Linked DNA regions of Homo sapiens: all the other regions are linked to region 2. Evidence: fine-mapped expression QTL. A gene starts in region 2. Each other region holds a variant in brackets. All regions are shown on one strand. Distances are from middle to middle. Region 1 overlaps TAF6L (TATA-box binding protein associated factor 6 like). Region 2 holds the start of BSCL2 (BSCL2 lipid droplet biogenesis associated, seipin). Region 3 overlaps GANAB (glucosidase II alpha subunit).

Region 1 (2,842 bases), 68 kb before region 2:
GCAACCTACGCCTTCCAGTTTCAAGCGATTCTCCTGCCTCAGCCTCCCAGGTAGTTGGGATTACAGGTGCCCACCACCACACCCAGCTAATTTTTGTGTTTTTTTGGTTGTTTTTTTTTTTGACATGGAGTCCTGCTCTGTCACCCAGGCTGGAGTACAGTGGCACAATCTCAGCTCACTGCAACCTCTGCCTCCCAGGTTCACGCGATTCTCCTGCCTCAGCATCCTGAGTAACTGGGGTTACAGGCGCCCACCGCCACGGCCAGCTAATTTTTGTATTTTTAGTAGAAACGAGGTTTCACCATGTTGGGCAGGTTGGTCTCAAACTCCTGACTTCGTGATCCGCCGGCCTCCACCTCCCAAAGTGCTGGGATTTTAGGTGTAAGCTCCTGTGCCCGGCCTTTTTTTTTTTTTTTTCTTTTTTTGAGACAGGGTCTTGCTCTGTTGCCCAGGCTGGAGTGCAATCTCAGCTCACCACAACCTCTGCCTGCTAGGTTCAAGCGATTCTCATGCCTCAGTTTCCTGACTAGATGGGATTACAGACATGTACCACCAGGCCCAGCTAATTTCTGTATTTTTAGTAAAGAAGGGGTTTCGCCATGTTGGCCAGGCTGGTCTTGAAGTCCTGGCCTCAAGTGATCCGCCCACCTCGGCCTCCCAAAGTGCTGGGATTACAGGCATGAGCCACCATGCCCGGCAGCGTTTGGTCTTAATGTCTCACCACATCGCCAGCCCTGAACTGGACATGGAAGTGGCCTCATGCCACCTGAGCCCTCTGTAGCCTGCACCCCACTCACCTCCACGCTGCTCCATCTGAGGGCCCTGTTGAAGTCCTCAACCGTCAGCTTCCGGCGTTTGGTGTGCTTCATGAACTGAGAGCTATTCTGGGAGGGAGGGAACAAAAGCCAGAGTCAAAGGATGTGAAGCAGGGGGCATGGGAAACCCCAAATGAAGTGGGCCAGACTGGAGAGAAGGCAAACAGGAGACCACGCTTAGGGATCAGAAGCCTAGATTCCGTCTCTGCTCCTGTACAAAAACACCCCCCGGGTGTCACATCTTCTGTCAACACCTCAGTTTCTCACATGCAGAATGTGAGTATCTACCCGCTCTGCCTGCCCAACAGGGCTGTTGTGAGGAGCACATGGGAAGATGCCTGGCAAGCGCTTTGTCTGCTGGAAGCCCAGACAGCTACAAGTAGAGTTCTGTAAAGGCATGGACTGTCTCTGTTGTATGGAGCAGGCACCCAGTGTACACTTGAATAAATCAGCGAGGGTGGAGGTTAGTAAAAAGGCAGAAACAAGGAAAGTTGGAGGTATCAGGGGGTGAGGGGAGTGTACCTGC[G/A]TGGCCTCTCTCAGACGATAGCACACGTCCTCTGCGAGCAGCGCCGCCACCTCATCGCTCAGCTCCAGGCCCGTGCTCTCCGCCATGAGCCGGACAGACTCCCGAGGGATCTCCACAAACCGCCGCTCTTCTCGCTCTGACATGGCCCCAGTGGAGCTGGGAGTGGAGAATGAAGACTGGAAAAGCTGCCCAGCCTCCCGGAGAGCCCAGGAGTGTGATCCAACACCCTCCACACCAGCCTTGCTGCTCGTGCTCTGGAGTTTCTAAACAAGGAGCTCTGAGTACCCAGATGAGGAAAGTGAGGCTCAGAGAAGGAAACAGACTGGCCAGTGGGTCAAGAACGGTGAAGCTAGACAAAGTCCAAAGTGTTGGGGTTCACAGAACTAGGTCCCATTCCTGCCCTGTCACCTTCTATGTGAATTTGGCCAAGGCCTTCATCAGTCTGAGCCCTTGTGTCCTAAACTGTAAAACAGGCACAATAATTCCTGCCCTCTCTAGCTCACAGGGTTGCTGTGAAAATGAGATGACTGATATGATTTGGCTGTGTCCCCGCACAAATCTCACCTTGAATTTTAATAATCCCCACGTGTCAAGAGCGGGACCAGGTGGAGATAACTGAATCAAGGGGACATTTTCCCCCATGCTGTTCTCCTGATAGTGAGTTCTCAAAAGATCTAATGGTTTTATAAAGAGCTTTTCCCCCTTTTGCTCGGCACTTCTCCTAGCTGCAGCCACATGAAGAAAGACATGTTTGCTTCCTCTTCCACCATGACTGTAAGTTTCCTGAGGCCTCCCCAGCATTGAGTCAGTTAAACCTCTTTCCTTTATACATTACCCAGTCTTTTCTTTTTTTTTTTTTTTTTTGAGACAGAGTCTCGCTCTGGCGCCAGGCTGGAGTGTAGCAGCGCGATCTCAGCTCACTGCAACCTCCGCCTCCCGGGTTCAAGTAATTATCTGCCTCAGCCTCCTGAGTAGCTGGGATTACAGGTACCTGCCACCACGCCCGGATGGCTAAATTTTTTTTTTTTTTTTTTTGAGACGGAGTTTTGTTCTTGTTGCCCCCAACTCTCCTGCCTCAGCCTCCCAAGTAGCTGGGATTACAGGCACGTGCCACCACGCCCAGCTAATTTTTGTATTTTTAGTAGAAACAAGATTTCGCCATGTTGGCCAGGCTGGATAGTAGCTGGGCTTTCTGCCTATGTGTTTGGTCTTCCCCAGTTTGGCTGCAGTGCCTAAATGCTGGAACCTGTTTTGTTCACAGGGTATAGCACAATAAGAAACCGACAAAAACAGCAGCTGATGACTCACTCCAACAACGCACAGCACCAGAAGGTAGGCTCCCGTGCGCCAAAGTGATGCATCCACACCTCAGACAGGAAGGCCCAGATCCAGGATGACCCACCCAGGCATTGCCCCCACTACTCCTCTGGCAGGGGATCAATGGGTCACCAGTGACGTCCAGGTCCCTACATCCAATGGACAGCTATGTGGCTTCTGTGCA
Region 2 (2,805 bases):
AGGGCCCAGGAGAGGGAAAAGGGAGGAGTTGTGAGAAGGGACAGGGGAGCTCAGAGGAGAGCACAGAAGAACTTCTTCTCCCGGAAGGGGTTCTCCGAAGTGGGCACAGGGGTGATGAGGGGATCCTCACAGGCGTGGGCATCACAGTAAGTCATCAGGTCTGCTGCTGCCTTGGACACCTGGGACACAGCCAGGAAGGGTATTGTTAGCCAGGACCTCTGAAGGGGACTGCAGCCTCCCTCCCCAAATGGGTTCTCTTTTGCCATCTCCAGGGCTCCTTACGACTTGTCTTCTCCCTCATCCCCCCCAGAGGCCTGGGGACAGCTCTCTCTACAGAGCCCCAGACTCCTCCCCTGACCTCAGGGAGTGAAGGAAAGAACGCATCTCTTATCTTGAGCTTTGGGAACCTGCAGCACAGCACAGCCTGGCCAACTAATGGGAGCCAGCCAGGGTCCCACCTACCTTTATCCGACACAAGCTGGCTTCAATCTTAAGCTGTTCCACCATCTTGCGTGCTTGCCCAATACTCATAGTGCTGTTCACCGGGGTCTCACCTTTCATCCTGGAAAAAAGAGGGACCTCTCAGAGCACAGTCTCAGCTGGAGGCCCCCCTCCATGCTCACTCCACACCAACCTTTACAAGGCTGTGGTCATACCCCAATATTTTGTTCCCCTCCTATCCTCCTCCTCCTCCTCCAGTGGACTGTCTCATCCCTGTATTCCTCATGGAAAAAAATAGGGTGGGATGAGGTGCTCCCCAAACTCCCTCATGGCCTGGGCCACAGATCATTAAACCTTACACAAATGATTTAAGGCTTTTCAGCCCTTCAAACCATGTGTGTTCCCAGCTCTGAAGACCTCAACCAACCCTGATGAGGAGGGCACATCACCCCTGTCTGCTCCAGTGAGCCCCAACAGGAGAAAAACAGGCCATTACTTACCTGAAGCCACAAGCGGCAGTAGCAGCCCTGGGTGTAGGGTCAGTGGAGGGTACCAAAACCTTCTGCCTGAAATGGGTGCCCCACCCAGTAGGGAGTTGCAGCTGAAAGTATCTGATGCAGAAGCAGTGACTATACGAAAGGAGGCCCCTGGGGAGGGCCAGGCCAGAGGTCTGGTCTCAGTTTCTGCAGCTCAAGCACTGTCTGGATGGCTGGTACCTGAAGGATGAAGGATGCTAGAAGGAGCTGCTCAGATCCTGGAGCATACCAACTGCCTGGCCAGTGGGGGAGCCTAGCTGCCTGCATCCCTGCGCACACCCCCACTGTCGCTAGTTCACTGCCTGCCCCTCCCCCATTGCAGGCATCCTGACTCTGGGCTAGAGACCTCCCCAACAGAGCTGAGGCCAAGGCCGACTCCCCCTCTCAAATGGCGTGGTCTGGGCCTATGACGGCCCCTGCAGTGGAGTCTGTACTGGCTGCGGGGGACCCTGCTCATTTGAAAATCTGACATCAGCTGGGCAGTCGCCCCCCTCCTCCTTTCCTCCCTCTACTCTGACACAGCACTTAGCACCTGAATCTTCGTTTCTCTCCCAGGGACCCTCCATTTTCCATATCCAGGAAAATGTGATGCGCCACAGGTATCAGCGTCTGGATCGCCACTTCACGTTTTAGCCACAAGTGACTCAGTGGAAGATCCAGAGTCAACAGAGGCTCGTCAGGAAGATGTCTACAGAAAAGGTAGACCAAAAGGAGGAAGCTGGGGAAAAAGAGGTGTGCGGAGACCAGATCAAAGGACCGGACAAAGAGGAGGTAGGGGCCCTTGTGGGGACAGTCAGCAGAAATATACTGGAAATAGGTGGGCTGGCGTGAAGGGGGCGGGGGGATGGATTGGTTTTAAGAATTTCATTCATTTTGAATAGATTACTTCCCACGCCCGCAGCAGTGTGCAAAGATGTACACAACACTGGCCTTGCCTCTGAAGGACTTTATCTGGGGTGATTAGACGTCTACAAAATAGAAGACTGCCAAAAGCTAGTCTAGATAATGTGCTGTGGGGACTCTGAGGGAGAGTGTATCCAGTTAGGGTCAGAGGAGGTCCACAATGCTACCACGCTGGGAACAGGGCACTAATCTGCCTGCGCAACAACGCAAGAGGCCCAGGTTGCCGCAAACTGCAACATGCTCTAGGCGAATGCCCCCGCCTTAGATGCCTACAGGTCCTAGGAGCTGTGGGCGATAAAAATCAGCGCCAGCTGGATGACCGCCTCACTCGGCCGCTTCGCGGGTGAAATGGCCTGTGGTGAAGGTGTGCACGGAGGGCTGTGATTGCAGTCTCAAGGGAGAGCCGAGCGGAGGCTGCAGTCAGCGCATCCCCTGGGGCACATCTTGGGGCCTGCAGGGAGGCAGGCGTCTTTCCCCTTTGGTCACGGTAACCGGAGGGAAACCTGCCGCAGAGAGAGCCAGTGGCGAGCGCAAGGAGACAGCGACCTCGCAGCTCGGGAAGGCTCCGCCCCGTCCCGCCCCGCCCCGCCGTGCTGGACCCCGCCCTGGGCTGAAGCCCCGCCTCCCACGGCTACAAAAGCGGCCGGCGGAGAGGGGCGGGACTTCCCCGGGAGCCGGAAGTCCCGTCTCACGGTTGCCCTGGCAGCGCGCGAGGCTGGTGAGTCGGCAGCCCTGTGGCAGCCGGCGGGCTGGTTTCCATGGTTGCACGATTAGGTAGGGGCTCCGGGCGCTTTGCCCACCCCCGAGCTGGAGGGGACTGGCGGGAAGCGGCGGTTGGCTGCAGGGCGCTCCGCCGGGCGTGGGGTGTAGCCGTGTCGGTGAGCGAGCTCTGCTCGAGGCGGAGAGGAGAAACTCGGGAAGCAAT
Region 3 (2,500 bases), 73 kb after region 2:
GTGGAGGTTGCAGTGAGCCAAGGTTGTGCCACTGTGCTCCAGCCTGGGCAACAGAGCGAGACTCCATCTCAAAAAAAAAAAAAAGAAGTACATCATTTTTCTTCATATTTGGAAAATCATTTTTTTTCCTATATGGAAAATGTTTTTTCAGTTCCATTTTTGAATAGTTCTCCTTTCCTCTCTCATCTGCTATGCCACCTCTTAGTATTTAGTACATTTAAAAAAGTAATAAGTGGCCAGGCACAGTGGCTCACGCCTGTAATCCCAGCACTTTGCGAGGCCGAGGTGGGTGGATCACCTGAGGTCAGGAGTTTGAGACCAGCCTCAACATGAAGAAACCCCATCTCTACTAAAAATACAAAATTAGCCAGGTGTGGTGGTGCATGCCTGTAATCCCAGCTATTTGGAGGCTGAGGCAGGAGAATTGCTTGAACCTGGGAGACGGAGGTTGCGGTGAGCCGAGATTGCGCCATTGCACTCCAGCCTGGGCAACAAGAGTGAAACTCCGTCTCAAAAAAAAAAAAGAAAAAAGTAATAAATATGCTTGGGTCTGTTTCTGGGCCCTTTGGTTCTGTTTATTAACTTGTCTATCCCTGCTCTGTTACCACACTGCCTATTTCTCTTAACAGGTAGATTTCCCCCGGTCTTCTAAAGTGTCATTACTCCTCTTGGCCCTTTGTACTTCCTTATATTTCTTTTGATATGTTTCCCAGGCTTTCTGTCTCTGGTCGTGATGAGAACAGTGTGGAGTTAACCATGGCTGAGGGACCCTACAAGATCATCTTGACAGCACGGCCATTCCGCCTTGACCTACTAGAGGACCGAAGTCTTTTGCTTAGTGTCAATGCCCGAGGACTCTTGGAGTTTGAGCATCAGAGGGCCCCTAGGGTCTCGTGAGTACAGGGGTTGGGACTGCAGGGAACCTAGTGTGAAAGAGCATAGGGGTGTTGTGAGGTCTGGCACGGGGAGGAGACGGTGGTGGGACAGCCAGGTAGGGCCTGGGGGCTGGGAGAAGCTCTCTGTCAGGGAGGGTAGGAACCAGACCCGGGTGCGGTTTTTTCCATTTCCTGTACAGACCAGGAGGCAGTCACTTTTGTCCCTGAGCTGTACCCTGGGCATCTCTGGGAGGCCTGCCTGGGTCTGTGTCTCCTTCTTCCCCTTCTCACATCATCACATTTCCCAGATTTATTTTCTTCGTTTTTATTTATTTATTTTTTTTGGTTTCTTTTTCCCCCCATCTCTGGAAGTTTGTCGACTGAAACTCACTTTTATGTTTCTGTTTTTGTGTTGGTTTTGTGCCTCTTTTTCCCCTTCCCTACCCATCTCCTCCTGCCCCAGTTTCTCGGATAAGGTTAATCTCACGCTTGGTAGCATATGGGATAAGATCAAGAACCTTTTCTCTAGGTAAATCCATGGCCACCGGTACTGTATCTGTTCCTCTGCCCTTACCCATTCCTCACTCTAGCCTT[T/C]GGGGGGAGGTGCCCCAGACCCTTCCAGCCTTTCACTCACCCCACTTTCCCCTGCTGTGTGATGTCTGGTCCTGTTACCTGTTACCCTGGCTGGGAGCCCCCAGAAGAAGGAAGGTGAGATACTGAAAGTCAGGTCCTTCGGGAATGTAGGGAGCTTATTGCTTTGCCAGGGGATGGAGAGATGCTGCCTATTGCTGGGGTTCCTGACTCTCAGCTGAGGGGCACCTGAGGTTCTGGGCAGAGCTACTTGCCCTTGAAAGCATTTTTTGGCAGAATCTCTTGAAGTCCCTATGTATGTCTGTAGAGGCTTGGTATAGTATGACCCACATGCCTTTGCAAAGCCATTGTGTCAGGCCAGGAGGCTGAGGCCCAGGGAGAGCACTTGGGGCCAGAATCTCTCAGTAGAGGCAACAGAGCCAGGATTGGCATTCATAACCCAGGCCCCTGAATCATTCTGCCTTTCTCTTCTGGGATGTTGACAGAGGCTGGTGTTCAGGCCTGTGCCTCCTGGTGGCACTTATTCCTCATTTTCCTTTCTCATTTCTCTCCCCATCCTTTGCAAACTTATCTGCTCATTGTGGGTTCCCTCTCCAAGCTTTAACATTTAGTCCCTTCCTCCAATGCCTTCGTTCCTTTGGACCCTTGGCTCTCTATTCCCCAACCCCTCCTTCCACTAGCCCCTCGTCCCTGCCCCCTCTGGATTGGAGCAGACAGCTCTCCTACCTTCCAGGCAAGGATCAAAAGACCCAGCTGAGGGCGATGGGGCCCAGCCTGAGGAAACACCCAGGGATGGCGACAAGGCAAGTTGGAGCGGGTGGGTGGTTGGAGGATAGGGCTGGCTGGGAGGGTGGAGGGGAGAGGCCCATGAGAAACTTGAACTTAGTCTCCCCATCAGGGATGGGATTTAGTTGATGGGAGCGGGGAAAGAGAGAACTGGTATGATTGGAGAGTGGTCCTCTTTTCTTCTTAACAGCCAGAGGAGACTCAGGGGAAGGCAGAGAAAGATGAGCCAGGAGCCTGGGAGGAGACAT

The links. PIP is the estimated chance that this variant, and not a neighbour inherited with it, causes the effect. A credible set is the group of variants that fine-mapping cannot tell apart.
Region 1: its variant is the best candidate, but not a certain one, in a credible set for the expression of BSCL2 in monocytes (Fairfax 2014, PIP 0.64).
Region 3: its variant is the best candidate, but not a certain one, in a credible set for the expression of BSCL2 in whole blood (TOPMed, PIP 0.51).

Annotation. Positions count from the first base shown.
Region 1 is chr11:62,774,426-62,777,267 of GRCh38, reverse strand. TAF6L (TATA-box binding protein associated factor 6 like) reads right to left here. Exons shown (of 11, transcript NM_006473.4): 2 at 1,338-1,497; 3 at 798-884. The coding sequence starts at 1,484. It also overlaps a transcript of TMEM223 not described here. Among named protein-coding and RNA genes, the nearest start is that of TAF6L, 4.5 kb to the right of the region's middle. The variant G/A (reference allele first, on the strand shown) is at 1,342.
Region 2 is chr11:62,706,052-62,708,856 of GRCh38, reverse strand. It overlaps BSCL2 (BSCL2 lipid droplet biogenesis associated, seipin), which reads left to right and starts at 1,433. Exons shown (of 11, transcript NM_001122955.4): 1 at 1,433-1,748. The coding sequence starts at 1,662. It overlaps GNG3 (G protein subunit gamma 3), which reads right to left and starts at 1,181. Exons shown (of 3, transcript NM_012202.5): 1 at 942-1,181; 2 at 463-562; 3 at 1-179. The coding sequence starts at 561. The coding sequence ends at 51. HNRNPUL2-BSCL2 (HNRNPUL2-BSCL2 readthrough (NMD candidate)) reads left to right here. Exons shown (of 24, transcript NR_037946.1): 14 at 1,533-1,748. RefSeq lists enhancers at 1-729, 2,049-2,722 and a silencer at 2,390-2,729.
Region 3 is chr11:62,633,214-62,635,713 of GRCh38, reverse strand. It overlaps GANAB (glucosidase II alpha subunit), which reads left to right. Exons shown (of 24, transcript NM_198334.3): 5 at 714-893; 6 at 2,200-2,269; 7 at 2,443-2,500. Among named protein-coding and RNA genes, the nearest start is that of GANAB, 12 kb to the left of the region's middle. The variant T/C (reference allele first, on the strand shown) is at 1,470.